Regions from separate parts of the Homo sapiens genome. Here region 1 is linked to region 2. The links come from fine-mapping of genetic effects on gene expression. A gene starts in region 2. The other region holds a variant in brackets. All regions are shown on one strand. Distances are from middle to middle. Region 1 overlaps SUSD6 (sushi domain containing 6). Region 2 holds the start of SUSD6 (sushi domain containing 6).

What was found.
Region 1: its variant is fine-mapped to the expression of SUSD6 in whole blood (INTERVAL, PIP 0.91).

What each region holds. Positions count from the first base shown.
Region 1 is chr14:69,687,672-69,703,822 of GRCh38, reverse strand. SUSD6 (sushi domain containing 6) reads right to left here. Exons shown (of 6, transcript NM_014734.4): 3 at 231-428. Among named protein-coding and RNA genes, the nearest start is that of SRSF5, 71 kb to the left of the region's middle. RefSeq lists silencers at 2,237-2,531, 15,217-15,511 and an enhancer at 9,288-9,337. The variant G/T (reference allele first, on the strand shown) is at 9,787.
Region 2 is chr14:69,603,390-69,619,540 of GRCh38, reverse strand. SUSD6 (sushi domain containing 6) reads right to left here and starts at 7,945. Exons shown (of 6, transcript NM_014734.4): 1 at 7,713-7,945. RefSeq lists enhancers at 3,532-3,741, 4,012-4,061 and a silencer at 7,427-8,196.

The sequences.
Region 1 (16,151 bases), 84 kb before region 2:
GCTTTACAGAGCAGGGCAGATGGCTCAATGAAATGCAATAGGACATGCACCAGCAACCTCAAGTATCTTCCACAAAGACATGAAGACCCAAGGAAGGGAGGCTGCAGAGCATCAACTGGGGCTGGGCTGCACCACAGCAAAGAGTGCTCTGGAGGAAGCATGCTTTGCATCCTGTGAGTTAACAGAAAGCAGAACCCCAGCAGCATCCCTTTTTCATCTGCCAGACTGACCCTCGTTGAGACGGCAGCTAATCTCCATGGCTGGTTTCCACTCGCCATTCTTACACGTCAGGTATTTGTAATCGCCCTTCAACATGTAGCCTTCAGCACACAGGTATTCGATGACACTGCCTGCTGTCAGGGGGTCTCTGCAGGGCCGGGGGTGGCAGATGTAGCCACCATTCTCTGGCTCCGGTGGTAGGGGGCACACTGCAAAGACAGGGAGAGAGCAGGGGTACAGTGGTGAGGTATCCAGTAGGAGTCTGCTCTCAGTGACGCAGCTCTGAAGGCCTCTACAGGAAACACAGGAGGAGGAAATAACCCTTTCCTTGGAGGAACTGTTAACCAAACCCTGGAAACTCAGGTTGCCACTGACAGAGGGGAAGTATACTGGCAACAGGGGAAGTGGCTGCTTGCAACATTTCCCCCTCCCTCCCCACCATGCCTTAAGAGAATTCCATCCATAAATGAACGGCAGACTCTAAAGTCTTGAACCTATAGAGATCTAGACATAATAGTTTTAATAAAGCCTGTATTATGTAATAAAGCCTGTAACACACATAATAAATCACAGTGAAAGGAGGAAAAATGTTGGCCTTGTTTCCACTATCAATGTCAGAAAAGACTCTATTGTATAATAAAAACGTGCACTCTTGGCCTGAGAGGGGATTTCTGATAGATTCCCTGGGAGGCTTCCCAAACCCCCTGTGCATCTTCCATTCTCTGACTATAGTAGTCAATGGCACCACCTGTCTCTATCCCATGATAAATTCCACATTTTCCACTGATATACAGGACTGCCTAGTTTCAAAAGCACCTTCACCTCCCGCCTTATTTGTCCTGACAACTCTGTGAGACAGCTATCGTTACTCTCCTTTGAAGAAGAAGACACTGAGGGCCACAAAAGTTAAGTGACTTTTAGCCAAGCTTACAGCAAGGTAAATGGCAGGCTTGGGGTCACAGTCAAATCTTCTGATTCTAAACCTCTGCTCTTTCCACCAGCAGACATTGCTTCTACCCCATGAGCTGCATGGCCTTTAAGGGGTATGGGTGTCAAGGTTACCTCCCCTTTGCCCTCTTGAAACTGGTCAGTTAGGGAGATGGCAGGCAGTGCCTAGGTATGGTGGGAACCCTGGTAAGTTGCAGTAATGGTAAGTCAGAGGATCTGGAAGGTCTGAGTGGACCTGAGGAGGAAAAGGACAACCTCTGATTCCACTCTGGACTGACACTGCAAAACTGAAGACCCCAGGTGGTGGACTGCCGGGTATTACCAGCCAAAACAGTAAAAGTGGGGGCACTACAGAATCACTGTTTGGAATGTTGGGCTGAGGTAGAATGGCCAGGCAACCATGAATGCAATAAAGACCAAAAGTTTTCCAAAGGAAATTCAATTTTGCTGACAAATAACCTGCCCCCATCCTGAATATCACAAGGACATCTGTATGAGAATAAGAACGGTCGTTTTCTTTTTCTCATTTCCTCTGACAGGCCTGGAGTGACTGAGAGTCACACCACAGTGCCTGACTGTCCAAGATAAGGCAGTTTCTCATCCACGAGAGGGGCAGACCACACCACCCTGCAGCTGTGCCCTCACAGCCTCTCTCACCCATGCCTCTTCTTTCCAATCTACAAATGGCTGTTAAGCAAGCTGACTGCCAGCCAGGTTGGGGAGTGGACACCAAATGGAAAAGAGATGATGGCTCCCTACCCTCAATTTGCTTATCACTTGAGATGGGGAGAAAAGGCACTTTTTCTTTTCTTTTTTTAGGTGATGCCACTAAAAAAAAGATGCCATTTTTAAAAAGCTATTAACAAAACAAAGCTGGGTAGGTGCCACAGGGATCCAGAGAAGTCTGGCAGCTTCTCTGAAACTAGGAGATGAGCTCCAGTAAGCTCCCCCCAAGTCCCCTCTAAGGACCCAACTTGTCCCTATTCTCCTCCACCACCAGAGTCTTGAACAGGAGAAAGAAAAACGCAAACACTCCTTCTGGTGCTCTTTAACTTTGGCCAAGTAGTTCAGAGCGCTGGCCAGCTAGATTTCCAAAGAAACCTCCGCAAACTGCTTTAGCCTTTACACTTTCCCTCTTTTGTTCAGGGCAGCAGGCCTGCCACAGATCTCCCTGACTTACTCCCTGGCTCTCCTTGGACTGTGTCTAATTGGTTCATTTCCGTGGCATAATTAATGCTGAGCACCCCATGGCAGCTCCTGAAAGCAGGCAGGACCCACACACAAGTCCAATGTGCTGGGAAGGACAGTCTCAGGGGAAGAGCTGCTGATTCTAAAGCCACTCCTGCTTTGCTGGGTATCTCTTTCCATAAAACCCACATCTCCACAGAATCTTTGAGCGGGATCCTGGCGGTCACCTAGCACTCATAATAAGTCAAAAAAAAAAAAAAGTGAGGACTGCAAAGAAGTGACTTGTAATTCAGTTTAATTTCAATTCAACTAATACTTACTGATTCTGAGTAGGGGGTCACTGTGCTATGCTCTGAAAAAGGACAAAAATATAAGCACCTCAGGTCCTTCTTGCCAAATAGGGATATGACCATTAAGTGCACACATATATTTAAAAAATCATTCTCTTTATGGCTTCTGGATTAAGGACTCTTTCTCTACTCTGAGTTTATAAACATACTCTCCAGTATTTTCTTGTAATGCTTTAGGGATTAGGTTTTTGTTATCTAAAATACTTTTACAAAACAAAACAAAACAAAAAAAACAGACTCATGGGAAATATACAAGGTATTAAATTCAAAAAGGGTGCACAGTGTCCCGTCACTGGGTTCCTCTTTCCAGAGTCACTGCACCAGTTTCTACCATATTCTTCCAAAGATACTCTATATACAAATTTATTCTAACACATGTCAAATAATGTGATTTGTGCCACAAGAGAGGAAGTTCAAAGCAGGAATAGGGGAGCCTAGGAAAGGATCTCCGAGGAAGTAGCACTTCAGATGGGGCTTCACTTCATCAGGAAGGGAGGTCATAGTTTGAAGTAAATGCACTGAAGTGGGAAAATGTAGGTTAACTTCTGAGAACAGCAAGCAGCCCAGTTTGGCTGGGTTGAGTAATTTTTTAAAAGTCCAAAAAAATAACATGAAGAGTGATGAAACCATCTTGTAGAGGACCTTCCTTACAAAAGGAGATATTTATAATTATAGTCAAAGAAAAGGGGGAGCCGCTGAAGGTTCTTGAGAAGGGTAGCATTATAAGAAAAGCAAATTTATAATTTGATATAAGATGGACTAGAGGTAGGAGAGACCCCTTAGATTATGTCAACATTATAGCAATCCTAGTATTGATACAGGAGCTAGAAAGAAATTATTTAGGCAGATAGTGACGGCAAAAGAGTCCTCAGCAAGGTTTCCCTTTTAAGGAAAAGCAGCCTCAAAATCATTTCTTTTCTAACAAAGAGCAGCCTGAAAAATCGAGCTGCATAGATAAGCAAGCTGGAAGCTTGCACAGGTGAATGCCAGCAGCTGTGCCAATAGAAAAGGGCCACCTGGAAGCCAGGTGTGTTCAGAGTGGAGGCTCCATGTTCCCTTTTCTTTGTCACCACGTGTACAGTAAGGACCAGGCAACATGGTGCCCACCAGGTAGAGAACCCATCTGCATAATAAAAGATTAGGGTGGGACGGCCAGCTATTTCACAACTATGCAAATGGCACACATGGTCCAACCAATCTTTCGTCCCCTATGTAAATGGTCTCCTCAAGCTCATCTATAAAACCTTCTTCATTTAACTGCAGAAGTGCAACCCATTTTCTCTGGGACCCCTCTCTGTGCAGAGAGCTCTTCTCTTTCGCCTATTAAACTTCCACTCTTAACCTCACTCTGGTGTGTCTGCATCCTAATTTTCCATGGCTGTGGGACAATGAACCTCAGATATTACCCCAGACAACAACACCGCTTCAGTATGGCAAAATAAACTCAGTACAAAAATTATTTTATGCCCATCTATGAAGGTCATAGAAAAGAAAAAAGCTGAAGTATGTCATAAGATGCTCCAGGTTCAAAGAAGAAATAAGGATGCCTAAGAAGAAAGGGTCCAAAAAAAAAAAAAAGGCAAGTCATTTTAAGACACTAAGAACATGTGAAAAGGCTGGGTACAGTGGCTCACGCCTACAATCCCAGCGCTTTGGGAGGTCAAGGTGGGCGGATCACTTGAGGTCAGGAGTTCGAGACCAGCGTGGTCAACACGGTGAATCCCCATCTCTACTACAAATACAAAAATTAGCCAGGTGTGGTGATGCACACCTCTAGACCCAGCTACTCAGGAGGCTGAGGCACAAGAATTGCTTGAACCCATGAGGCAGAGGTTGCAGTGAGCTGAGATTGCACCACTGCACTCCAGCCTGGGCGACAAAGTGAGACTCTGTTTAAAAAAAGAAAAGAAAAGAAAAGAAAAAGAACACATGAAAAAATATGATCCTCTTGACCAAGAGCAGAGTCCTGGCCAACAGCAGGTGTTGAAGAGGACCCTCTCAGTGATGCCTGGGAAGAACACTAAAAAAAGGCAAAACCCACATGGCAAAGAAATTGTTCAGTGGCTTCCAGAAGCCACAGTCTAGGCAAGAAACTGTCTTGATCTGTGCACCAGGATCATTCTCTGACAATTCCAGGTTCGCAGAAGGAAGCTCTGTACTTAACTCTGGGAAGACAATGAACTCACCTGATGTGGCAGTGCCACATAATTTTAAAAAGAAAAGGAGAAAGCCAGACAATTTTACAGGGGGAAAAAAAATCAATGAATTATCTTTAGCTTCCTCTCTGCTTTCCATTCTGTCCCACAGCCACATAGGCTTTCAGTGAGCACAGGGAGTGCACACAGTAGGCATTCAGTCAAAGTCCACCCTGGTAACAATGCAGATGAGACGCAAAATGATCTAGCTGATACTTCCACCACCTCCGTCGCCTCAGCCTGACACCCTCAGCAGAAACTAACTGCTGAGGACCCTCACCAGCCTTTCTAAAGGTTCCCTGGTTTTGTTGGTTTTGCAGGCCAACCTTTCAGAAGGAGGCAAATTAAAACAAAACAAACTTTTACAACATTCCAAAACAAGCAAAGCAAAATAAGCTCCAGGAAAGGCCCCAGGGGTCAAAGCATTCAATTTAACAAACAGAACAAATACTTGAGCTCCTTCAAAACAAGGTGTGGAAAGCAGGGAATATAAAGATCAGTGTGACATGCATGCAGCCTCAAAGGGATTAGGGTTGAGTAGGAGAAGGTTACATTTAAATTATCTATAGTGCATTTTTTGTTTGTTTGTTTGTGATGAGTCTCGCCCTGTCCCCTGTCACCCAGGCTGGAGTGCAGTGGCAATCTCAGCTCACTGCAACCTCTGCCTCATGGGTTCAAGCGATTCTCCTGCCTCAGCCTCCTGAGTAGCTGGGACTACAGGCGTGTGCCACCACACCCGGCTAACTTTTGTATTTTTAGTAGAGACAGGGTTTCACCATGTTGACCAGGCTGGTCTCGAACTCCTGACCTCAAGTGATCTGCCCGCCTCGGCCTCCCAAAGTGTTGGGATTACAGGCGTGAGCCAGCGCATCCAGCCCCTTTACTTTCCTAATCAACTTGCTATCACTTTACTCTATGGACTTCCCTAAATTATTTCTTGTGTGAGATCCAAGAATCCTCTGTTGGGGTCTGGATCTGGACCTCTTTCCGGTAACAGAACCATGCCCCCACTACAAGCCTACAACCTAGAGAAGACAGACATGGTCACAGCCAACTCTACCCTAAACCAATGAAGTAAGTGTTAAATGTGACACAAGCTGCTCAAATATGAGCTTTTCTAATAGCCTGGGGTGTCCTTCTGGCTAGGTGATCATTCATCGGCACCCAGGGAGGGTAAGAGCCTGAGGCAAAGAAGAAAAAGAGTAGAAACTAAGGAGAGGAGGAAGGAATGGATGGAAATCACAAACCTAGCACAAAGCTGTCCAACAGAAATATAACATGGCCACAGATGTAATTTAAAATGTTCTAGTAGCCAATTAGGAAGATAAATGGAAACAGGTGAAATTAATCTTAATATTTTATTTAACCCAACATATGAAAAAATATGTTGACTGATTACATCTCAACATGGAGTCAACATAAAAATTCACTAATGAGATACTTTATATTCTTTTTCTCATAGTAGTCTGTACACTTATATAAGAGGCATCTGAATGACAGCGACTCCATCTTGAATAGGGGCTGAGTAAAATGAGGCTGAGATCTACTGGGCTGCATTCCCAGGAGGTTAGGCATGGCATTCTAAATCATAGGATGAGATAGGAGGTCACAAGATACATGTCACAAAAGACCACACCAATAAAACAGGTTGGGCAGAGAAGTCGACCAAAACCCACCAAAACCAAGATGGTGACGAAAGTGACCTCCGGTGTCCTCACTGCTCATTATATGCTAATTATAATGCAGTAGCATGCTAAAAGACACTCCCCCACCATAGCCATGACAGTTCACAAATGCCACGGCTACATAGGAAGTCACCCTATATGGTCTGAAAAGGGGAGGAACCCTCAGTTCCAGGAATTCCCACCCCTTTCCTGGAAATCTAATGAATAATCCACCTCTTGTTTAGCATATAATCAAGAAATAACTATAAATACACTCAGCCGAGTAGCCCATGCCACACTGCTCTGTCTATACTGTCTATACAGCAGCCATTCTTTTATTCCTTTACTCTCTTCATAAACTTGCTTTCACTTTACTCTGTGGACTCGCCCTGAATTCTTTCTTGTGGAAGATCCAAGGACCCTCTCCTGGGGTCTGAATCTGGACCCCTTTCCGGTTACACTTATAGCACACCTCAACTCAGACTAAACACATTTCAAGTTCTCAGTCACCACATGCAGCCACCTAGTAGTGGCTATTGTAGTGGACAGCACAGTCTCAGTGAAGGAGTCCTTGGCCAGCAGTCAGGACAGGTCTGGGGATCTGAAAACAGTGGAAAAGGTTCAGAACCACACGACAGGGCATGAAATGTGAGGCTGAAGATGTGGAAAGAAGGAGGCATTTAGCACTAAGGGTCTCTTAAAGTTATTTAGAAAAGCACTATTTATGTGCTTGCTCTCAAAACCCTTTCTTATATATAAAGGTTATATTTCTACTTCTAGCCTTCAATGGTTTGTAGAAGCAAAGAGATCCAGAGAAAAAGCAAGGTCAATACAGAGAACAAAGGTGTTTAAATGTATAGTTCTGTTTGTTTTGGAATAAGGAAAACAGTAATTATTGCAAACAGATAGTTTATTACCTGTGCCAAGTACTCTTCTGGGTTCTCTCTCTACATGAAGCAGGTACTATATTTTCTCCACTTTACAGATAAGGACAATAAGGCTTAACTGAGTTGAGTGATCTGCCTCAAGCCACACATTTGTAATTGGCAGGGCTGGATTCACCAGGAACTCTGGCTTCTAAGCTGCAAGCCTGACCACTCAGTTAAGCCGGGGCCTGCTGAGGGGGGCAGGGCATCAGGAAACCTGCCAGGTTCTGTTTTGTGGCTCATTTCCCCATTTGATGTGCTCAGCCTATGGCTTTGGAGACATCCAGCTACTTCGTACAGCATATAAAAGAAAGAGTTATACCCAGTATGAACAGCCTTTTTCAAAGGGGAGGTGATTCCCCTAAAGAAAGCCTCCCAGGCAAGTTGGAATTAGAGCATTCCAGACAAATACAAAGAAGAAAAAACAAGTGATGACATCTGATATGGTCAAAAGGTTTCTTCTGAAGCCTCCTAATAACAACAGCTTGTGTTCACTGACTACAGGCCAGGCACTATCTGAGCACTTTACATATGTAACTCATTTAAGTTTCACAAAAAACCCTCTAGAAACATAACAATGCATTACACAGATGAGCCAGGGGTTGAGATACTTGCTCAATTTCACCCAGCAGGTGGGTGGCACAGTTAGGATTTGAACCCCAGAAGGCTGTATTCCCATTCCACAGCACTGGGCAGTATCAGAGGGTCTCGGAGTCAGGCTTCTCTCACACCCATAATCTGTCAAGGGAGCCACAGATGGCAGAGTCCAGTGACAAGGACAAACTGGGTACTGCCCGTAGACTCTGGGCCTCAGTTTCAATACATGAAGGCAATGAACCAGATCACCTCTGAGATCTCTTCTGACATTTGCAAATTTGTCTAAAGTTGGCGGGCCTCACTACCTCTCCAAGGTTCCTTCGCAAAAGTCCTGCAACCATTGTGGTTTTGGATACAGCACAAGGTGTGAGGGGCTAGAGATCATCCTGTCCATGCAGAAATTCCTGCATTGGGACAGATTCCTGCTGTGGACTTGTGGTGAGAGCCGGAAAACAGGCAGGAGTCCCACTACTTAAGAGATACCTGGGGCTGCTCTGGTCCATGGCTCTGCCCAGCCTTCTGGCTTCCCGATCCCGCCAAATAGTCAAGTCTAAAACAGGCTGCAGTGAGAGGGAAGTGAGATGGTTTCTCATGCCATTTGCAACCTTCCTCTCCTATGAGACAAATCTTCCTAGCAGTCAGACAGGAAGCCTATTGTCCAGTCAGGATCCCTTTTCTCATGAGAACTTCCCACTCACTGGGGGAGAGCCAGCCTGCAGTAGCTCAAGCCTTTTTCAGGGTGTGGCACCAGAGCTGGGGTGGGAGAACACAGGGAGAAACCACCCATGGCTCAGGATACCTCCTGTGGCTCTTCTCGGGCCCCCACCACTGCCTTCCTAAGAGAGGCTCAACCTAAGCCCTCCTCGGAAGATCAGCAACTGACAGGTGGGACAGGCCTCGGACCTGTCCATCTTGTTTTAGGCCTGGGCCCCTCACTTCCTCCCCCTCACAGGAGAGGGAAAATGCCAGCCAGAGGCCTCAGAGCCAACAAGCACTTTCTTTTACTGCACCCTGCCTCAAACATAAAAACTCCTGTCACCTGGAGTTTTCATGTTTGAGGCACAGCGTTCAATAAAAGAAAGTGCTTTTAGTGGCACCTAAGCCTCTAAAGTCCTTAGTCATTCAGTCAAAAGTACTGTTTCTCTCCCAGCCTAGAAACCCTGAACTGAAAGCACATGCAGTCAGCTGGAACCCCACCCATCTCCAAGGTTCCAAGGCCACCTTCCCAGGCATGGCCAGAGAGAAACAATGAGCAGCACAGGGTGGAGCTTACCAGCTTGGGCTGAGACTTCACGGCCTGGGGTTGCACACTGCTCCAACAGTTACCCACTGGGTAGTCCTGGGGAGATCTTCCTATTCCTCAGTTTCCTCATTTTTAACATGGGGATTCAAAAGGTTAATCACAACTATGCAGGTAAAGTACCTGGTAATGGGTCTGTCACATACTAAGTGTTCAATAACAGCAGCTTTATTATTCCTCCTCTGGGTTCCCATTACATCATCTTCACTCCTATTTGTAACCTATCACCATGTTGTAGTCTCTGCAGGTTTTCTCACAGGTTGGTCCTTCCTCCATTTCCCCAATAACCACCAACCCACACATCTAAGCCATAGGGCAGAGACTTGTTCTGCTCATTTTTGTATCCCTAGTACCTGACAAATAATCCAGGAGATAGTAGATGCTTAGTAGAAAACCAAC[G/T]TGACTTGCAAAATTTTGTCCTTATTTCAAAACACTGTCTTGTTTTCAACTGCAATGAGCCACAATGATTTTTGATTTGAGATGAGTCAATAACAGACAACGGCAAAGAGCATCCCTCTCCAGGGTACAATTTGTATTCTCCAAATTGGTACCTAACTGTGAAAATACACTGCCTACCTAACAGGACCAGAGCCACATGGAGTAAGAGCATAGTCTTGGGGGTCAGACAGATGAATCTGGGTTTGACCCAGGGGCCTGCTCTGCAGCCTTGTCAACTGTCATAACTCCTCTGAGCCTTAGTCCTTAGCAGCCAATATCCAGCTCCACAGGTTTTTTTAGAAGACTAACAAAACTGCATACTTGAAAGGGTCTTGTATCATGCCTGGCACATTACTAGGCACTGATAAATTTTCATGTAGCAAACTAAACCCTTATCTCTGATTTTTGGAATGGGCAAAGGCTTTGGTAAAAAGAAAAAGGATTATTTCAGAAATTTCTGGATATTTGGAGAGGGGGCAGGCAGAAAACAGAGCAGGATAAGCACTTTGGGGGGTGTTGTTTGCTCTCTCCTTGTTCCAGTTCAGTAATAAGCCGGCTCCTTTTTCACTTCCCGTTCTCGACAATACAGCCCAGGCTGCTCTTGGCTGACAAATGGACTCCATATGGCCTGTTACCCTTTCACCTCCTCTTGTTCTTGCAGCTCAGGGACCCAGGGAAACAGGCTGCCAGCTGGGGCTGGGAACCCCTCCCCCTCCCACTGTTACCACTGCTACAAGGAGGGGCAGGCCAGAGGACCATTCTCCTTTATCCTGCTGCTCCAGGTACAGGGCTAGCCCACTCAGTGCCCAAAGCCACTACCACTGCTATAGGTCAGTACAGTGACCTATAGAGCAGAGCCCACAGCTGTCTCCTACCTCCACCTCCAGATGGTGGGATGACAATGGAGGTAGGGAGCCAGGCTATTCCACGTGTATTAGCAAGTGTTACTGTTTCCCTTGACAGTGGCAGTTAAAGGCTTAAGAAAAAGCAGAGAATGCTTATTTTTTCCTCATCAGCCATTGTCACTTCTTGTTCTCATCTCCTTCACCATATCACCTACCTGAGCTAAAATATGTGTTTGCTCTCCCCTCTCAGAATTCCTCATCTCCCAGAGGAGATGACTGGTCCTCTCAGGAAAGGCCCAGATGGCTGTTTACGGCAGCTCAGAAGGAAAGCTGATGAGCAGGTGATAACTGACTTAGGAGTCTGGCTTAGAGTTTAAAACAGGGTTGGACTCTTGGGTACAAAGGCCAAAATTGTGGTTTCATTTCCAATCCTACCAGCTAATGGTAACTCCTAATGCCAAGTACAGTCCCAGGCATACACAGCAGGGCCTCAAGAAACACACAATCAAATTTAAAACAAATTTAATGATCTCTGTTGCCAAAAGGATACAAGTAAGGAAGAGAATTAACATTTATCACCAGGCACTGCACTGGTACTTTAAAAGTGTTATCCTATTAAATTCTTCCACCCTAGGAAGAAGGTGGTATAAAACTTGATTTGTTCAGAAAAAACTGAGGCTCTGAAAAATTTAGTAATGGACTGAGGTCACCTGGATTCTAAGTACTAGAGTCTGCATTCAAATTCTGGCTGGCCCTTCTACAAGGAAGCTTCTTGATTTTTTCTGATGCCACCAGAAAAAAATTTACCCCAAGACCTACAAAGTATAACATAGGGGTGGGATACATATGGACAAAAGCTGCTATAATTCCTGTTTGGAGAAGAATATGGCCTGGTGAGTTTAGTTGTGCCCAGAGGACTCAGTTCATATCTCAGGTGGGGCCACATTTTTCCAGAGAAGTGGAGGGAAAAGGCAGGACAGTTTCCTTCACTAATTTCTGTGTACTACACACAATGGAGCTATTTAAGGATCACAGACAGCAAAGTTGCAAGTGGGAGAAGATATGTAGGCATTTTCAGCTGAGAACACATGACTTCTTTTTTTTTTTTTTTTTTGAGACGGAGTCTCACTCTGTCACCCAAGCTGGAGTGCAGTGGCATGATCTCAGCTCACTGCAACCTCCGCCTCCCGGGTTCAAGCAATTCTCCTGCCTCAGCCTCCTGAGTAGCTGGGACTACAGGTGTGTGCCACCACACCGGGCTAATTTTTGTATTTTCGGTAGAGACAGGTTTCACCATGTTGGCTAGGCTGGTCTTGAACACCTGACCTCAGGTAATCCACCCGCCTCAGCCTCCCAAAGTACTGGGATTACAGGCGTGAGCCACCAAGCCTGGCTGAGAACACAAGACTTCTAAGACGGATATGTGAAAGGAAGGTTGTCACTAAATGCAGAATGGGGATGTGACCTGGAATTAGAGGGCTACCTTTCTGCCACTGCCCAGAACACACAGGGCCACTGGGTTATCACTGCCAAAGCCTGAAATAAACAGCCTCTGCCACATACTCCCAAACAGGGGGTCAGGTAGTGTGCTGATTCTCTTAGGCACTCAACAGGCCACTGCTACTCACAAAGGCCTAGACAACCGCAAAGAAAGAAAGGAAACACCAGTAAACTCTAGTTATGGATGGTAACAGAAATCCACTGAGGCAATGGCCCCAAATCAGCAAAACACCATAGGTCTTTGAGAAACACCAGCAGTTGAGGGGTGGAGGTCTGAATGGGTTTTTTGTCGCTGTTGTTTTGAGATAGAGTTTTGCTCTGTTGCCCAGGCTGGTGTCTAGTGGCACGATCTTGTCTTGGCTCACTGCAACCTCTGCCTTCTCCCAGGTTGAAGCAATTCTCATGCCTCAGCCTCTTGTGTAGCTGGGATTACAGGTGCACACCACCAAGTCCGGCTAATTTTTTGTATTTTTAGTAAGGACAGGGTTTCGCCATGTTGCCTGGGCTGGTCTTGAACTCCTGACCTCAGGTGATGCACCTGCTTCAACCTCCCAAAGTGCTAGGTAGGATTACAGATGTGAGCCACTGCACCCAGCCCTGAATGGTCTTTTCTGAAGAAAGAGATGTGACTGGGTCTAAGGCATACCATGAAGTGAGCCCTGTACATTCTGGGGGGTGGGGTCCCACCATGAGACAGGGACTACAAATACAAAAGAGACAATAAAAGGTGTGTGGTTTTTTGGTGCGGGGGGAGAAGGCTGGACGAAGCCACAAGTCTCATCTCTATTGCCTCTAAACCAACAAGCCTAAGGAACTCTGTACTCACTGTGCACAGGCAGGTGGAGCGGAAGTTACCAAGTCCATTGACCTGGATATTCTTCCTCCTTCATCTTGTGCGGGATGAGATTCTCTGTTTTGAACAATCTTAAATCACAAAATTTTAAACCACCTTCTCCCAAATGACCACCACGGGAAAAGCAGTTTGCCATGCCTTCTTGGTTTCCTTTGCACTTCTCCAGAGGGGAACTTTCACCAACTGATTCTGGACAGTGAGGAGTCAAATCCCCCTAGGAGTTCTCTTCTTCACTACTTTGAACTTTTGCATCTTGCTCAGCATACCGTGCTCCTGGAAGATCCCTCTGCTCCTCTTACAAGCTTTCTCTTTGAATCCTTCCCACATGCTTTTCTCTGAGGAAGCCACATTTAAGCCTCTTTAAGGATCTTTAAAAACAACAGGAATGCATTCAAGCCTGCTGCAAAGTCCAAAGAAGGATGGATGCCTGGCCCTGAAGGTCTAGGACTGGCCTTTGATGTTAGCCTGTGTACATATTGGTCTGGCTCTAGTAAAACAAAACAACCTCAAAATAGTGAAACTTGGGCCTAAACTAGCTAACAGTCAGGAGTAGAGTCTCAACCATGCTTATTTATCAGGGTGAGGACCATGCCCCTGTCACCTGTCATGGCCTCTTTGGCTCTTTGGACCCTAGTCTCTCGCAAGCCACTTTTGACTGACCAGTCTGAGATGCCCAGTCAGAAGACAATGCCTCGGACAGCCTCACACACACTGCATGTTGGTAGATAACTATGTCTAAATGCCACATTGATGTACAGAAAATACCTTTAATCTCTTGTCCTCCAGACAGCAGGTTTAATAACTAATAACTTTCACTCAAAAGAGAGTAAAAAAACACGGGCATGGTGTCTTAGGCCTGTAATCCCAGCACTTTGGGAGACCAAGACAGGCGGATCACTTGAGGCCAGGAGATCGAGATCAGCCTGGCCAACATGGTAAAACCTTGTATCCACCAAAAATACAAAAATTAGCCAGGCAACGTGGCACACACCTGTAATTCCAGCTACTCGGGAGGGCTTGTCATGAGAATTGCTTGAAGCCAGGAGGTGGAGGCTTCAGTAAGTGGACATCATGCCACTGCACTCCAGCCTGGTGAGAGCGAGACTCCATCTCAAAAAATTAAACAAATTTTTAAAAGTATTTACAAGTGTTGATTCTTATTCTCTCCAGGTTTCACTTTCCTAACAAATTCCTTCATTAATTTAACAAATTTCTATTAAGCACTATGTGTTAGGCTGCTGCTAGAAATTCAAGGGCAAATAATACACATGGTGTGCCCTTGAGGAGACTTCAGTCTCTTTGGGAATACAGATAAGGAGCCCCAACAAGATTAAAATAATAGTAATATCTACTGCTTCTCTTCCAGAATCCATGTAAGGATTATATTTACCCATTCATTCTTTTTTTCTCTTCCCTCAGCTTAATTCTGCCATTCATTTTTTCAACAAGTTTTTACTAAGTACCAAAAGCACTGTGGCAGGTGAAGGTAGGCAGGTGGAAAGATAAAAAGATATTGGTCCTACACTCTAGGAGCTTTCTAATAAACGACTATAATAGATATATGTTAGAAATCAATATGGGCTACAGAAAGTTCTGAAGAAGGATTAATCCAATGGGGAAGAGACCAAAGAAGATTGTAGAAATGGTATCAGAGCTCCAACTTCACGGGAAGTAGGATCATGAGTACGGGATAAAGGATTATGACGGGGATAAAGGAGAGTGGGAAGAACATGGTGGGGGACATAAAGGCACAAACAAAGGCAGAGAATCAAGAAGAGGTGGTATGTGTACGGAGAAGTTAGCAAATGTTTCCAGGTTTAGCAGGAGATAACTGAACATTTAGAAAATCAGGCTGGTGCCAGAAGAGGGTAGGCCCTGAATGCAAGGCTAAAGAATGTGGAATCTTGGGTTCCTCTTCCATGAGATGAGATTTTAAGGACACTTCTAGGCCTATAATGCAAAGCCATGTTATTCATAATAAAATGAAAGCCTGCTAAATAGTACCAATCCCACTGAAGAAGCTGCCCATATAAGTCTGCCTACATCCCCTGGAAACTATTTTCCAATGGGCTGGATGTGCTGACAGGGTGGAGTGGGGAAAGGGGAAGAAAACGGAAAATCCATTGCGAGTTTTCCAGTGCAGATTCATCATGCTTCTCAAGTTTGCCTAGGTGAGAGGGGACAGGAAAGAACTAAAGGGGCTGGAGCACACAGAAAAGGAATACAAAGATATCTTGTGGTCAGTTTCTTTTCCAGGGTTCTCTCACATGGCAGCAGATGGCCTATCCCTGGAGGACTGGATCCAGAAAGCAGCTGCTCCCAGGTCCTGGTTCTAACAGCTGGGGTCACAGGTCCTCTATGCACAAGCTGAATGCCAGAAATCAATGGGTCCCATTGTGCCTGCATGCATGCATGAGCTCTCACGTCCAGGCTCATGCTCTATAACTGCCTAGAACAGAGGACTGGGAAAAATAACACTACACACTTTGAAGGACTACATTTGCAAACTAATGGAAAGATAAGAGTATTATACAATCCAATTTTATTCAAATTACCTTGACTTTGCTAGGTAGCTACTAAGATGCTAATTATTTGGGAGATAGAGGGTCAAGAGGGAGGTGGAAGAGGAACAGAAGTAGGGCAGATCATAATCAGAAGCTAATCAGTAAATACATCTAGTCTTCTTCTTTCTGCCCAATGCAGAGAGGAGTCTGGCTCTACCACAACAACCAAAAAGCAGGCTAGATGTTTCATGTATTAGAAAAGGGCATACAAATTCATAAAACAATGTGTGTGTACACAGAAGAGTATAACTGTATAATTACATAATTAGGCACATTATAAAGTATTTATACTGCTGAGACTAAAAGCCCCTACTCAAAGGCATTCCACCAAAGTTGAAAAGGGAAAAAAAAGAAAAAAAACAAAAAGAAAAAAAAGCATCTAATTGCAATCTTCCACAAAGCCAGACATCCCCAGCTGGTGCCACAGCTGAATTCTCTTAATTAACAGTTGTAACGGCAAGTACGAAAGACACTGTATGCTTATCAACTCCATGTCGTGGCCAGCCAGGCATGGGAGAAGCCCACAATACTGCTATAATTAGAGAGATTTTTCTCTATTATAAT
Region 2 (16,151 bases):
AATTGTCCCACCTCAGCCTCCCAAAGTGCTGGGATTACAGGTGTGAGCCACCGTACCAGGCCAGGTGGCATTTTTGAATGGCAAAGATACACAGCACAGAGATTTAAAAGTTAAGCAGGCACAGCCTAAACACAACTACACCGATTTTTTAAAGTGAAAGCAAGTTTATTAAGAAAGTAAAGGAATAAAGAATGGCTGCTCCATAGGCAGAGCAGCCCTGAGGGCTCTGCACCCATTTTAAGAACAGTTTTCTTTCAGAAGAATTGGACTTAATGACTCACTGCCTTTGTAATTTCACTATTAGACTCAAAACTACAATCACAGAAGTAACTTGAATTTGTTCCCAAAAATATGAACCACGACACCCTGCTGGACTCCCAACCCCCATTCCGGGACCAGGCCCAGAAGAGGGGGAGAAACAAAGAGGTGATCACACCGGGAGGGAAAAGCACTAGACTAGGAATCAGGGGCTCTGGCTTCTCCACTAGCCCTTTCACCTCTCAGGCAAGTCAGCTCTGAGCATCCATTTCCCACTTGCATTTCTTTAAAATGAGGAGGTAGAATAAGAAGAACCCCAAAGGCCCATTTTTCCAACTCTAACATTTCATGAACCTAGAACCTCTCTTCATATACTTTGTTGTGCTGGGAGTTTTGGTAGCATCTAGATAGCAACAGTGAAGCATCTGGATCTTCAACTAAGAGTCTCATCTCACTTCACTCAACCTTTGGAAACTCTTAGGATTTGAGAATCAAATTTGCATTAACAGGTAAGGCCTGCTTCAAATCACAAAATTTTTGGCAATGAATTTTGGCAGGGAAGTTATGGCTGCATTCACACACATTTACACACACACACACAGGAGGGAACTTTCTAGAAGAACTGATCCTTGGCCTTGGCTCCAGATACAGGAATCCAGAGAAGAGAATTCAAGTTCCTAGTTTTTGTCTGTCTTGCTGGACAAAGGGCATATGCCCTATCCCTCCTGTTTCTCTGCAGTGTAACCATCTTGATCCTCCGTTAAATCATTAGGTAGCCTGCATATGCACACTTTCAAGAGCTTTTAGTAGGGATCTACGATCAGGGAAAGCAAGACTAGCTGTTGAAAGCAAGACTAGCTGTTGGTCACAAGTGCTAGTACAGGCTGAGTGTCCTTTATCAGAAATGCTTGGGATCACAAATGTTTTAGATTTTCGAATATTTGTATATACATAATCAGGTATCTCAGGGATGGGACCCTGGTCTAAACATAAAATCCATTTATGTTTCATTTACACGTAATACACATAGACTGAAGGTAGTTTTGACTGTGACCTAAAACATGAGGTCAGGTGTGGAATTCTCCATCATGTGGGTGCTCAAAAAGTTTAAGATTTTGGAGCACTTCATATTTCAGGTTAGGGAAACTCAACCTGTGGTTCCAATTGGAACAAGGGCAAAAGGAGACATTCTGTTGCATTATTTCATTAATATGGTTGGCATGATGTAAAACCACACAGGGACACATCCTGTAGAGGAAATGACACTCCAAGCAGCACCATCTGCTCCTTTTTGTGTCTGGCATGATCTGTTTTTAACCTCGGGTTACACCTGAGGTCCACCTGGAAAAGCCCTGTGGGGGCTGCTCTAAAGAGCACTCTTTCTCAGATCTACATTTTCAGGGCACTCACAGACCCTCTCCCTCCTCCCTACCTTGCTGGCTGGCTCTCTGTTCAATAAGCATTCCACTCCCCAACCTAGCAGAAGCCTTTGAGCAGGTGCACAGAACCCTGGCATGGAATTTTTCACAAGAAAAGGAAAAGCTTCTGAGAACTATAAATCACATTTGATAAGGAAGGCTTTGGGGGTTCATGGTAAAGTCCTCTCTATAAAACACAAAGATGAGATTTAGAGCTGAGGCTTCGCATTGAAAATCCTCTTTATTTGTTTAAAGCAGCAGTACATGTGCATTGAATTTAGGCACTATCGCGTCTGTCAACTCTCACCAATGGTTAAAGTTCTGCACCAAATATTTGGAAACAATGCTACTGGAGAGTTCAAACTTAAAAACAGGATTCTCTCTTTTTGTTTTTGGGTTTTGGATTTTTTTTTGGTGGCACCTTTTCTTGATTCAGGGCAATATCCGCAACACCACAGTAGGATCAAGAGTTTACTAAAACACTGTTCTTCCTCAAACAAACTGCATAACCTAGGAGAATGTTAACCACAAAGTAGAGATATGGATGGATGCAGCTTTAAAGGTATCTCCTTGAGAAATGAAAACATATACCCACAGAAAAACTTATACACACGTTCTTAGCAATACTGCAATATTATTCATAACCAAAAAACAGAAACAACCCAACTGTCCATCAGCTGATGAATGGATAAACAAAATGTGGTATATCAATACAACAGAATAGCATTCAGCAATAAAATGGAATGAAGTACTGATACATGGTAAAACATGAATAAGCCTCAAAAACATTATGCTAAGTGAAAGAAGCCAGTTATTAAAGACCACATATCATATGATTCCATCTATATGAAATGTCCAAATAGGCAAACCTATATAGAGAGAAAGATGAGTGGTTGCCTAGGGCTAGGTGGGATTGTAGAGAAATAGGGAGTGACTTTTTGGGGTGATGAAAATGTTGCAAAATTAGATTATGGTGATAGATGTACAACTCTGTAAATATACTAAAAACCACTGAATTGTACTTTAAATGGGTGAATTTTATGACCTGTTAAAAAAAAAAGCTAAGTGAAAAAAATACAAAGCTGAATGTACAGGTACTACCATCTGAAGATGGAAAAAACAGAATACACATTATGTTAGGGTGGTAGAATCATGCTGATTTTTTTTCCCTTTTATTTTCCAAGCTATCTGTAATCTTGTGCCTCCCCACCAAAAAACATCTCTCAGTCTTCCTTCAAACAGTTTGCATAGACTGCTATAATTTAAAATGCAAATTAAGCAAAATCACCTTGTACCCTTTTTGCAGTTACCTTTTACAAGCCTCCGTCCACTTAGTTTGCTGAGCTCAACTGAGAACAATCTAAAGGAAGAATTGGATAAACAGGCTCTTATGCCATTCCCAGAAGCCAGTTTCATTTTACTGTCTTTGTCAGAAGCTGAAGCCTAGTCTAGTCAAAGAAAATTTCAGCAAGGACAGTTTACATAAAGGGCAATTCCACACTCTAATCTTAAATTTCTGTGGGTGAAGGCAAGTCACTGCTGGCAGTAGGTTGGACTTAGAAATATGAGACATTCCCTCTCCTCTACAAAGGGTAGCAAGAAAGGGGAGGCTGAGAAAGATCTCTATTTGTGTCCCTTCTCTGAGGTTTTGTATCCAATCTCCAACTGCAGAATCCTGAATCATTTTTCACCAGAGAAGATCCTCTTCTGAGTAATAAAGAATTGTCAGTCACCACCTCTGCCGTCTGCAAACCCACTGAGAATCTATTACTGTCATCAGGAATCCCAGGCTAACTTCCCTCAAATCAAGGAAGGAGGCTTTGCCAAAAAATAAAATAAAATAAAACACTTGTGTATGTGTGTAGGAGCGGGGAGTACATTTAGGGGCACACTGCTGTCAGGTAATTTTAAGGATCTACTAACACTGGCGACAGTAACAGGGAACTACATCTGTTTCTGTTTGAGAAAAATGCTTCAGTAATATCCTGTTTCAGGAGTACTGTGTGAATTCTTGGCACGCAGCCTTCAGATGTTTCAAGGGTGGCTATTTTCCTTTTTTGAGATAGAAGAGCCAGGGAGGGAGACTACATCACAGGCAACACCACAGTCTGTGAAATTAGTTTCAGTTCTCACTGCTGCACTTCCTGCTGTCGCTGTATCCAGTACCTTCACGGACGCTTAACTGTCCCAAGCCTTGACAGTAGTACAGTTGGCCTTTCACGGCTGAAGTGACCCAGCTCAGTGCCACTGCAAGGTCCACCAGTGGAGCGACTTCCACACTCAAGTAAGAACCAGAGGATGAGAGAGCAAATGGAGGCACCCTGCTGGTTTCCAGGCCAAAAAAAACTAAAAAGGGAAGAAAAAGGACACCATCGCAGACACATCAGCCCAAGAAGAACACAGGTGCCTAACAGGCTCTGCTGCGAAAACCTAAGCCTTGTAAGAGGCACCTTTCCCCAGAACTTGTACTTTTTAAGATGAAAGGTTCTTACACAGAAACACAAACTTACACTCATCCAAGGGACACACAATGGCTGTTGCCTTGAATCCAAGCCAGGGGTGGAGTGAACAGATCTTGACGCGCAAGGACAGTCCACCCAAAGGTTCCTGAGTACTATGGAGCTCGTGAGAAACCTGGGGAAAGAGTCTCTATTTCCCCTAGTTTTGCATTTGTCCCAAAGCTTACATTTAACCAAATGTCCTAATCCTCAACATTCAAGTCTGCAACAAAGCAATGTTTGCTCTCAAAGTTGAAAAGAAGACAAGACATGGGGCTCCCTCCTCTATTGGCTCCTTCTGATCTTTCTCCCACTGCTTGAGCGAACACCCTCTAACAAGACTTCCATAGTGTCCAGACAGAAAGAAGAGGGAAAATAAATCCTGCTTGTCAGCTTCAACTAGGAGATAGCATGTCATTTCAGGAGCTTAATAACTCACTTCATGTATGGCAATTACACAACCTGGGCCCAATGGATCTGCTGACATTCGGGCCTGCAAGTGTGAATTGTCTCTTAATAAATGGGGAACTAGAGGGGAAAGACAACCACGTGTGCCCTCTGGCCTTCCCTCTCTGCTGGCAAGTGGTTCTGCTTCATTCTCCACAGTTCACTTGTTTGGTACTGAAATGAGGAAGAGTATGTACCTCACTATTTTTTTTTAAAGATGCTGTATTTCTCCCAGCCTACAAATGATACCAGTAGTAACTTGGTTGTCAGAAGAGCTAAGGATATGAAAAAAGGGCAGAAGAAAATATTTGAAGCAAAAGCCAAGTTTTTATGTGGGAAATGGACAAGTGTGGAGGGAGTGAAACAATGCTTAGTAGCAATAAACTTGAAAGAAGTTCTAACTTTAAAGAAACCAGGTGAATTATTACCTTTTGGAAGGGGTGTGTGTGTGCATGTAGAGGGAAGGCTGCTGCAGGAATTGCTGCCCCACCAAAAGAGCAAAGGAGGACATCCCCTACTGAGAGATGCAACATTACATAAGAACACAAGTTCAGGCCGGGCACGGTGGCTCACGCCCGTAATCCCAACACTTTGGGAGGCCAAGACGGGCAGATCACCTGAGGTCAGGCGTTCGAGACCAGCCTAGCCAACATGGTAAAACCAAGTCTCTACTAAAAATACAAAAATTAGCCAGGCGTGATGACACGCACCTGTAGTCCCAGCTGCTCAGGAGGCTGAGGCAGAGAATCGTTTGAACCTGGGAGGTGAAGGTTGCAGTGAGCCGAGATCGTGCCACTGCACTCCAGCCCGGGTGACAGAGCGAGACTCCATCTCAAAAAAAATAAAAAATAAAAAAGAACACAAGTTCAATCACCACACCTCAGAGACTGACCAGGAAAACAGACAAAGTGCTGAGGTCTCTTTATCTGCCAGCCTGTATCTGTAACACCTCATTCTACCCTTCTTTCTCTTCTATCTCACCAAATTCTGGGCTTTCAGAAGGCAGGCTTCAGCGAAAGAAGTCAAACTTGCCCATTTGACAGTGGGTTTGCTCTCAGGGTTTAAACACTGAGCACCCTGGCACCTGTCTCTATCTAGGTGTAAGTGAGGATTTGTTTCATATGCCATTTCTACTACAGTATCCAAAAAATTACTCTGCAGACAGGAAGTCCTATCTATCAGGACTCATACCAATACTGTCCTCTGTTTAACTCGCTGGGCAGAAGTTCCTTCAGCAGCAAATGGCCAGCAATGAAAGCTAACAACATAAACCAAAACAAATGGACTTAAAGGCTGTGAGTCCATGAGAGCTGGATTCTGACTTATTCAATGCAGTACCTGCAATACCTAGCACAGTGCCTGGCATACATTCGGTATCACATAACTACTTGGGAGTACTGAATGAAAGAATGAACAAATGAATCTTATGCAAACATACCGTAAGTGTGTACCCAGGAGAAAGAGTTTAGAATGCTCATGATCTGAGAAACAGCCTGAAGCAGCAGTGCTTTCAGAAGGTTTTAGAAAGACTCCAGGTTCAATTTTATCAAAAGGTAAACAAACCAGAAACTAGCAGTATAATCTAGTAGTTCAGACTGTGGGCTCCACCATGAGATACCTATGTGACATGGGCGAGTTATTTAACTTGTTTGGTTTGGGTCTCAACTAGAAGAATGGGGATAATAATATCTACATCAAAAGTCTGTTATTAAATGAGTTCAAAAAAGTAAAGCCCTTAGCACAAAGGTTGGTACTCAGTAAGTCCTCAAGAACCTTTCCATATTATTGCTGCTTAAATACCTTCTTTCCTGAGATGTAGACATACCTCCCCCAACTCCAGGAAAATTTTAATTTCTGGTTGAATATGCTTCTAGCTAAAAACACAAAACCCAGAGAACTCAGAAGTCAGTGCCAAGCACATGTCTCTACTAGCCTCCACTAGATGGTGACAGTTTGGGTGTGGAATTCCCAAAACAGAAAAGGTGTGTGTGCGTAACTCCTATGTATGTTTTTACACCAGAGGAACGAAAACAGCAAGAAATGAATTAACTACTGTGAAGGAAAGACATACTTCCCATCTCTGTAGATCAAAAAAGGGAGTAAATCCCTAGGCCTAATTGAACTGAGTAATCTTACTGCACCTCTGGAAGAGCACACAGGAGCCCAGTTAGCGAGAGCAACAAAGCCCAGCATGTCGCCTGCCACTGAAAGAAAATTCTGTGGGAACAACAGCTTTAGGCCTCCTTGCCCAGACGCCAACTTCCCTTTAACCAGCCCAAGACTTTATTTTGACGCCTCTTTGCTCCTGGGTCTTGCTGTCCCCATAACCACCTCCCCCTCCTGCTCCTAAATTCGTCCAGGGTAACTTTTCTCCACTTCAGCAGCTCCCCAGCCACGACTCCCATGAGGGAGAGTCAGATCCACACTCATAGCTGGGGTCTCAAAACCAAGCGAAAAAAGGAAAGTCTGTATGTACGTGCCTACTTTTTGAAAGAAAATAGCTGGTTTCGGGGAGTTTAGCCTGGTTAATAAGAGAAGTTTTTGAGATTAAAGAGCAGCCGAGGCGCGGGGGCTCCCGAATGCCGCGGTGCGCACAGGCGGGCTCTGAGATTTCCTCAGGAAATCCACCTTCTCTAAGCCAGCCCTGCCCCAGCGCAAGCCCCGCAGCTTTGCTGGGCTGAGGGCAGTAATGACAGTGGCACAGAGGGCCTCTGCCTACCTCCTCTGCACCCATCGGCACGGCGTCTGGCTCTTCCGGTGCTGCCCGGGCAGCGACGCGGGACGGCGCGCCCCGGACCGCGGGTCACCAAGTTCCCGGCCGCAAACCAGCCGCCGGTCCCCCCGGCCGCGCAGCCCCCACTGCTGGCCGGCTGGCCGCGCCACGCCAGCGCGGGGCTCCCAGCGGCGCGGCTCGCGGCCGGGTGACAGCGGGCCGGCGCAGAGAAGCGCGGGGAGCCGCCGAAGCCGGCCCGGGCTCCGGCCAGCGTCACTCCTGGGCGGTGCGCGCTGGTCCCGCGCCCCTGACAGCCGGCCGAGCGCGTCGATGGCACAATGCCGGCCCCGCCGCCCCCGGGCCGCGGTGACAACTCACCCGGGAGCCGGCGGAGACCTCCGGGATGGGGGCGCTCACAGCTTCCACGCCGCCGCTTGCGCGCGCCCGCAGTCTTCTCGGGTCTAGGCGAGGCCCCGCGTGCCCTTGTCTAGCTCGCTCTGGCCGGCGCTGTGGGCAGAGGAAGCGGGCGGGAGGGAGGGAGGAGGTGGGGCGGTCGCCGGCTTCGGAGAATAGAACGCGGCGGTAGCGACGGCTGCAGCGCCCGCGTCACTGACCCAGCTGTACCGCGCGGGCGGGGGAGGCCCCGCGGAGGGGAGGGGGCGGGGAAGGGGCGGGAAAGGGGCAGGGCCAGGCGCGCACGCAACGGCGCCGGCGTCGCGCCGCCGCGACCGCCCCGCCGGGAGGCCCTGCACGCACGCGCCGCCGGCCGGGCCAGGTACCCAAGGGAGAAGCGACGCGGTTGGGGAGGTGGGGGGTCCTTAAAGAGACAGTCCCTCTGCGCTGGAGTGGATGGGGCGGTGGCACCGACTCAGCTGGACTATGCGGCGTTTCCAGTGCGCTCTCCAGTTCGTTTACTATTATTATTATTTGCATGATTGAATTACTATTATTTGCAAAGAATTGTACTGCCCTGAGGTTTACAAGGCTTTTGGCGCATGTTGCCTTGTTAGCTCTTGAATTGCTCGTCTGACCTAGCTCGTCTGAAGCAGGTTATTATCTCCCTGTTAAGCAGTAATCCGAACTGTGGTTCCTAGCCTGCCAACATTAAAGCTGCCCGGGGGGTGGGTGGGGGTGAAAATGCAGATTCGGGGCCCCGAATGACCTCCAGCCATTGTGATTCAGTGGGGTCGGACTTGGGAATCTGTATTTTCACTAGCATTCTGAAGTGAGTGATCCTTCAGCATACTAAAAGCACACAAGGGATCTCAAGGTTGAGAAAACCGCAGTTCAGAGCCAGGACTGGCAGAGCCCGGGCTAGAAGCCTGCCACATTCCTAACTGTATTTCCCCTCTTGAGCCTTGCCTTCTGGGGCTATTTTCTAGCACATACTGAGTGAGCAGTTTGTGCACTGTATGGCTACATCGTTTATTGGTGATCTCTCATGCAGTGTGTCCTCGGTTTATGTGTTTACAGGGCCCGTGGCGCCTTGATGGGGAGGACTCTGGCTTTTTATCTTTGTACCCCAGGGCCTTGCACCGTGTCGGTCTCAGAGGTCCTCCATAAGTGTTAAGGAACTCCTACTTGTAAATCAGTGGTAGAGTCCACATCTGGACCTACAGACTTGTGTCTTTGCTGCAGCTTGGGTCAGGCAGGCCTCTTCTCCCAGATGCTCTTGGACAAAAGGATACACCTTCTCAGGGCCTCTCACCAGGCCTAGTTCTAGTAGGCTTTCGGGAAAAGCACTGTGAATTAACAGGGCATGTCCTTGTGAAGTAGCTTGAACCAAATAAACAGGATGCTCCTCCCCATGCACACAGACCCATCCCCAAAAGAACCCTTCCCTTCTGGGCCCCACAGCAACCTGTGGCTCGTTGCTATAATGCCTTTTTCATAAGTCTATCCTTGTTCTGCCTTCTTTCTTCCTTGCCTTCTTGGGTCCAGACTCATTAGAGAAGATGGGCACCCCTCCCTTCCTGCTCATTTGGGGCCACACTGCCCAGACCACTAGAAGATTGAAAAGCACAATTCAGAACTACCTGGGTCTGCCTCAGAGCACAACCAAATCAGTGTGGGCAGCAGGAACATGCCAGGCAGACCCAAGGCTCAGGGAGGGGACAAGGGGGAAGGAAGCAAGGGAAAGGGATGGAGGAAGAATTGGAGAAGATGAATGGAGGAAGGAGAAAAAGAAAGAAAGGAAAGGGAAGAAAGCAGGCATGGATGGTTCAGGTCAGATCAACTGCCAAAGTAACTGAGCCCCTGGCTGTGCACTGAAGTCAGTTTGGCCATTAAGAGGCTCAGTAACTTCATACAAGAACTGCCACCTTATAAAATCCCTTGTGAGACCCTATGCAGATCTGTCCATCACTACCCAAAAATCCTCAGTCGGGCGCGGTAGCTCACGCCTGTAATCCCAGCACTTTGGGAGGCTAAGGCAGGCAGATCACGAAGTCAGGAGTTTGAGACCAGCCTGGACAACATGGCGAAACCCCTTCTCTACTAAAAATACAAAAATTAGCCAGGCGTGGTGGCACATGCCTGTAATCCTAGCTATTCAGGAGCCTGAGGCAGGAGAATTGCTTGAACTCAGGAAGCAGAGGTTGCAGTGAGCCGAGATCGTGCCATTGCATTCCAGCCTGGGTGACAGAGTGAGACTGTCTCAAAAAAAAAAAATCCTCTCCCAGACCTTCAGGGTCCACAGAATGAACTCAAAGTCATCAGCAAGGACTGTAGTATCCTGTGCTGTCCACAGTCCGGCCCAAATGCTCTCCATCCCTCCACACACCCCACTCCAGCCTCCCCATACCACCTGCTGGTCTCTAACAAGCCATTCCTGTCACAAACCAGGTGCCCATGCTGTTTCCTCAATCTTGAAGGCCTTCTCTACTTACCCTTCAGAATCTTCCCAAGGCTGCTGCTTCTACTTTTCTGTGGCACTTTGGTTGAGCCCCAAAGTGCCACAGAAAAGTATTAAATTAAAATTTTTAAACATTTTAAATATTTAATTATTTATTTATTTATTTTGACGGAGTCTTGCTCTGTCGCCCAGGCTGGAGTGCAGTGGCATGATCTGAGCTCACTGCAACCTCCGCCTCCCGGGTTCAGGGGATTCTCCTGCCTCAGTCTCCCGAGTAGCTGGGTTACAGCTGGGATTAGCTTCCATTTCCTTCTGCTTTGAATTGCCAGAATCAGGGTCAAGTCTCCTCCCTTTATAAATGTCAGCTCACCAGCCTTTCCTGTCTTCTCATCCCCTCCTATCTGAAGTTCCACTGGCCTCTTCAGTACAGCTGACGAAAAGCCCCTGTTACATTCTACGTATAGGCCTTGCTCTTCTCACCCGCAAAATGGAATGGTACTTCCTGGCCTGGGGTGAATATTATCTTTCTGCCATTGAAAAGATCTCACAAGATGAAGGTTAAGAATAATTTAGACTTAGACATTCTCAAGTGGGAGGGATCATAGATTTTTTTAAATAAAATTCTTTAAAATTTTTAAGATTTTTTTTTAATTTAACAGCTTTCTCACACCTGTAACCCCAGCATTTTGGGAAGCTGAGGCAGGCTGATCATTTGAGGCCAGAAGTTCAAGACCAGCCTGGCCAACATGGCAAAACCTCGTCTCTACTAAAAATATAAAAATTAGCCTGGCGTGGTGGTGCACGCCTGTAATCCCAGCTATGTGGGAGGCTAGTCACAAGAATTGCTTGAACCTGGGAGGCAGAGGCTGCAATGAGCTGAGATTGCGCCACTGCACTCCAGCCTGGGCGACAGAGTGAGACTGTGTCTTAAATAAATTAATTAATTAATTAACAGCTTTATTGAGATATTCACATACCAGCAATTCACAGTTTAAATTTGTATTTATTTTGTATAACTTTACAAATTGTACAAATTTGCACATGTACAATTGTACATTTAGAGTGAACAATTCAATGGTTTTTAGTATATTTACAGAGTCGTACAATATTTTAGAACATTTTCATGACCCTAAAAAAAACTCCCATACCCATCAGCAGTCACTACCATTTCCTCCCTCCCTACCACCTTCCCTGCCTCCCTCCCTAGGCAACCAACAATCTACTTTCTGTCTCTATAGATTTGCCTATTCTGAGCACTCTCTATAAATAGAATCATACAAATATGTGGCCTTTATAATTGATTTTTTGTTTCTTCCACCTAACAATCAATTTTAAACCAGAGCTAATTTTTTATTTTCACTTTTCAATTCAGACCCTGCCTTATTCTAAAAGGACTTAAGATGGCTCTTTGAGCTAATATTCCTGGGTCCTTCCAGATTTCCAGCATAAATCTTTTTTTTTTTTTTTTTTTTGACGGAGTCTTGCTCTGTCGCCCAGGCTGGAGTGCAGTGGCATGATCTGAGCTCACTGCAACCTCCGCCTCCCAGGTTCAGGGGATTCTCCTGTCTCAGTCTCCCGAGTAGCTGGGACTATAGGTGCGTACCCCCACACCCAGCTAATTTTTGTATTTTTAGTAGAGACAGGGTTTCACCACGTTAGCCAGGCTGGTCTCAAACTCCTGACCTCAGTGATCAGCCTGCTTCTGCCTCCCAAAGTGCTAGGATTACAGGCGTGAGTCACCACACCTGGCCAATTTCCAGCACAAATCTTAATATTCTGCTCTAAATCTAGGTGCTGGAATATGGCATGGGGGTTAGATTAGTCCCAGTTGGTGGTGAGTAGAATAGCCAGCCATCCCAGTTTGCCTGGGACTAAGGGGATTCCTGGCACATGGGACTTCCAGTGCCAAAATTAGGACAGTCCTGGGCCAATCAGGATGAGGTAGTCACTCCTATGATAAGAGTCAGGAGGCACAGTATTCCTTTCATCTCCCAGGAATATAACAAGGAGTGTGTGCCTTTACTGCTTGCAGGGCAGGACAGAGGAGTTTGGCTCTCTGAAAGTGAGAGAAAAGGTTCAGAATAAGTACATGGAATCTCAGTTGCTATGGTTATTACATACAATAGTAGTAATGACAGCTACTATTTACAAAGCACCTACTGTATGTCAGGTGCTTGGTAGGGACTTGATACGTGTAACCTCTAATTTTGGCAACAGTCCTCCAAGTTAATTATCATTAACACCATTTTACAAGCAAGGCTTAGAGAGATTTTTTTTTTTGACATATCAAAACCACATAAGTATGTATGTTGCAAAAGCAGAATTCATTCTTGTTTGTCTGTTCCAAAGGTCACACTTTCCCAAATAAACCATGTGCTTCCTCCCACCCCTAATAAAAATAGCAAATAAAGATTGAAATTGTCCTCATATATCTCTTGCTTTTTAAAAAAGTGCTTTTTTGCATACCAGCTAGTTTTTTACAACATCCCCATAAAACGAAGAGACATTATTGTCCCCAATTTTACCTATAAGGAAGTTGAGGCACTGAAAGGTTGCTAGCTTGTCTGATCTCATATAGAAATTAGCATGAGTTTCATGTTTTGATTCAAGATTCCTTGGGCAGCTTTCAAAGCCCTGTGAAGGTAAACCCATTTGACCCCAGAGGAGGTGGAAGGTGAGGCCACCCTCACCGCAGAATGTCAGAGTCCAAAATGGGTGGGCTGTACAGGGCTAGGCCAACAGGAGCTGAGAAGCAACTCCCACTCCAGAGGAGGAAGATCTAGGCTCAGGAGGTTATCTGAATTTGTGAGCCTGCACCATCACCAGGGGCAACCCTTCTTGCAGCTTGTCAGGAGCCTGTGAGAGCCAGGCTTGGTGACGCAATCCCTGCAGGCCACTGGTCGGAGGGAGCTTTGTAGAGGTCAGAGTTCAGGGCTTAGATCTGGGCTATTCACAGCAGCAGCTATGATTCCCTATCCACCCCAACTCTGACCCTAGCCTTAGAAAATGTGCACTTGAGGCTGCCCAATTAGCAGATACATATAAGAGGGCAACCCAGCCCCACCTGCTTTTCTGAAGCATGTCTTTGACAACATTCTTTCCCTAATACAGGTCAGGTTAACTGGTAAAAGTGTTGGCCCCATTTTTCACACAAGGAAAAGCCAAGGTAGAAAGGGAGCATCCACCTGCTATGTCTCCAGATGGTATCCCAGTGGAAGATGAATGAATATCAGATCCCCCCCACCCCTGGTGCCAACCAGCCTGATGACCTGCTGCTTGCCCTTTGCCCAAGGGCTGGGCAGTGACTCTAGGAGACAATCTGCAGGGAGGAAGGAAGGGACTGGGGATAGCCTAGGGCCTGAGGCCTTTCTAGACAGAGCCAGCCCACAAACCCCTCCCACATACACACACACACACACACACACACACATATACACACACACACACCTACACACACACACAGCTCCTGGTCATTGGACACTGTATTCCCTCCCTGATGGTTCATTTTCATGTGATTTAATGGTGAGAAGACAGAGCTATATGATTGGCCTTGCTAGCTCTGAGCTGCCAGTGCATAGAGGAATGGAGTTGCTCCCTCCTTCAGACTGTCTGGGGAGGCAGGGATAGGGCTGTGAAGCTCTGGCAGACACAACACCTCAGAAGGTTCTTGGCTCCAGGACTTGTTGGCTGGATCAGTAGGGTCAGTCCCTCTTTTGGCTGGCCAGGGACCTTCAAAATCAGGGTATTTTGATACCTCCAAAATCAGGGTATTTTGAAGGTGCTGATGATGGACCCCAAGGTGCAGCTTTGCCCCCAGGCATGTCAATGAATCCCCTGAAAAAAGCTCCAATACATTAAATATGTACTGTCTGCCAGATACTTTGCTAGTGGCTCCACATACATGATTTTATTTAATCCTTGCAATAGCCTCTGAAATAGGTATTAATACTATTATCTTCATTTTGCATATGAGGAAACTGAGGTACATAAAGTTTAAAGATGAGGCCAAGGCCACAGTTACTAGTAGCATGTCCTGCTTCTTAGGGAATACAGCTGTAATTTGCACTGTAAAAACCAAATGTGATTTTTAAAGGGGGACCAGAGCAGGTTACCTGCAGTGGTGTGCTGAAGAGTGCTCAAACTGTCAAGAATCAATTCTAAAATGTTCAAGATTTTTGTAAGCTAGTTGTTAAACACAGCCTTTGTTAAAAATTAAATTATGGCCAGTAGCAGTGGCTCACGCCTGTAATCCCAGCACTTTGGGAGGCCAAAGCAGGAGGATCACTTGAGCTCAGAAGTTTGAGACCAGCCTGGGCAACAGAGTGAGACCTCTTTACAAAAAATACAAAAATTAGCCAGGCATGGTGGCACACGCCTGTGGTCCCAGCTACTCAGGAGGCTGAGGTGGGAGGATTATTTGAGCTCGGGAGGTCAGGACTAAAGTAAGCTGTGATTGTGCCACTACACTCCAGCTTAGGTGACAGAGCAAGACTCTGTCTCAAAAAAAACCAAAAAAATTAAAAATTAAAAAAATTAAATTATATATATGTAAAATTAAATTATAGTTGTTAAAGTAATAAATACTCAAGTTACCACTTCCTAATTATTAATTATTTTACTACATTGTATTTTTTTACTTTTTCTGCCTCCCTTCTCTTACATTATACTCTTATCTATGCTTTCAAGTTTATTTACATCTCTTATGAAGTACTACATCATATTATGCCACTTCTCATCTCTTCTCAACTCCACATTCAGTGACATCACATTGATAGTTTGAAATCAGATACAGTGGAAGTATTTACACCACAGAAATTACTAAATATAAATCAGCTCCCACCTATAGAACAAGTTGCTAAACATTTACAATTGAAATGTGAAACATTTACATCTGGAAAACTGAAAGCTTCCAGCACCAGGGTCTGTAGCAGTAGTGGAGGAGGTGAACCCAGGGCTAGCTGAGCTCACCAGCAGAGCCAGCAGGGTTAGTGGGTGCAGGGCACATGTGGAGTATCTCTAGGAGGCAGCCAGACCCCATAGTCTCCATTTTACAGGGAAGGTGAGTTCTGAGGCCAGGTGAGAAATGTTTGATGCCTCAAAAGTGTGTCGGTTCCAGCTGGGTGCAGTGGCTCATGCCTGTAATCCCAGCACTTTGGGAGGCCAAGGCGGGCGGATCACCTGAGGTCGGGAGTTCAAGACCAGCCTGACCAATATGGAGAAACCCCATCTCTGCTAAAAATACAAAATTGGCCGGGCATGGTAGCACATGCCTGTAATTCCAGCTACTTGGGAGGCTGAGGCAGGAGAATGGGTTGAACCTGGGAGGCGGAGTTTGCAGTGAGCCGAGATCATGCCATTGCACTCCAGCCTGGGCGAAGAGCGAAACTCTGTCTGAAAAAAAAAAAAAGTGTGTCGGTTCTATTTGAGATGCACTCCACCTAGATGCACCATAAAGATTTCTTACTTTCCATATCCCCCAATAGAGTATGTTCTCCAGTTACCAAGGGAGATGGAGGGACAGGAACCTGAGAGGAAGCCTGCCTGGAAGAAGGGGGCTGCTGGTCCTCAGTCCCTTGTGAATGCCCAGCCTCTAGTGGTGGGATTAAGAATGCAGCCTCTGCCCTCCAACCTTAGGTCAAGACGCTCAACCAGAGTCTCCCTCCACAGAGTACCATCATGGCATTTCCCAGCACAGAGCACAGGACAGCTGGGACAATCCTTGTGGGACAAATGGACGATGGACAGAAGCATCTGCTTCCAACAGGAGGGTCTCAACCATCCCCTTAGAACCTATGCCCCCTTTGGATAGTATTTTATGACATCCCCCATTCCACTACCATGAAATGAAAATCATAGCATAATCTGCCTACACACATAATTGCAAAAAATAAATGCATGCATAGGTTCACCAAAAGACACGTACAAGAATGTTCACAGCATCATTATTCATAATGGCCAGACAC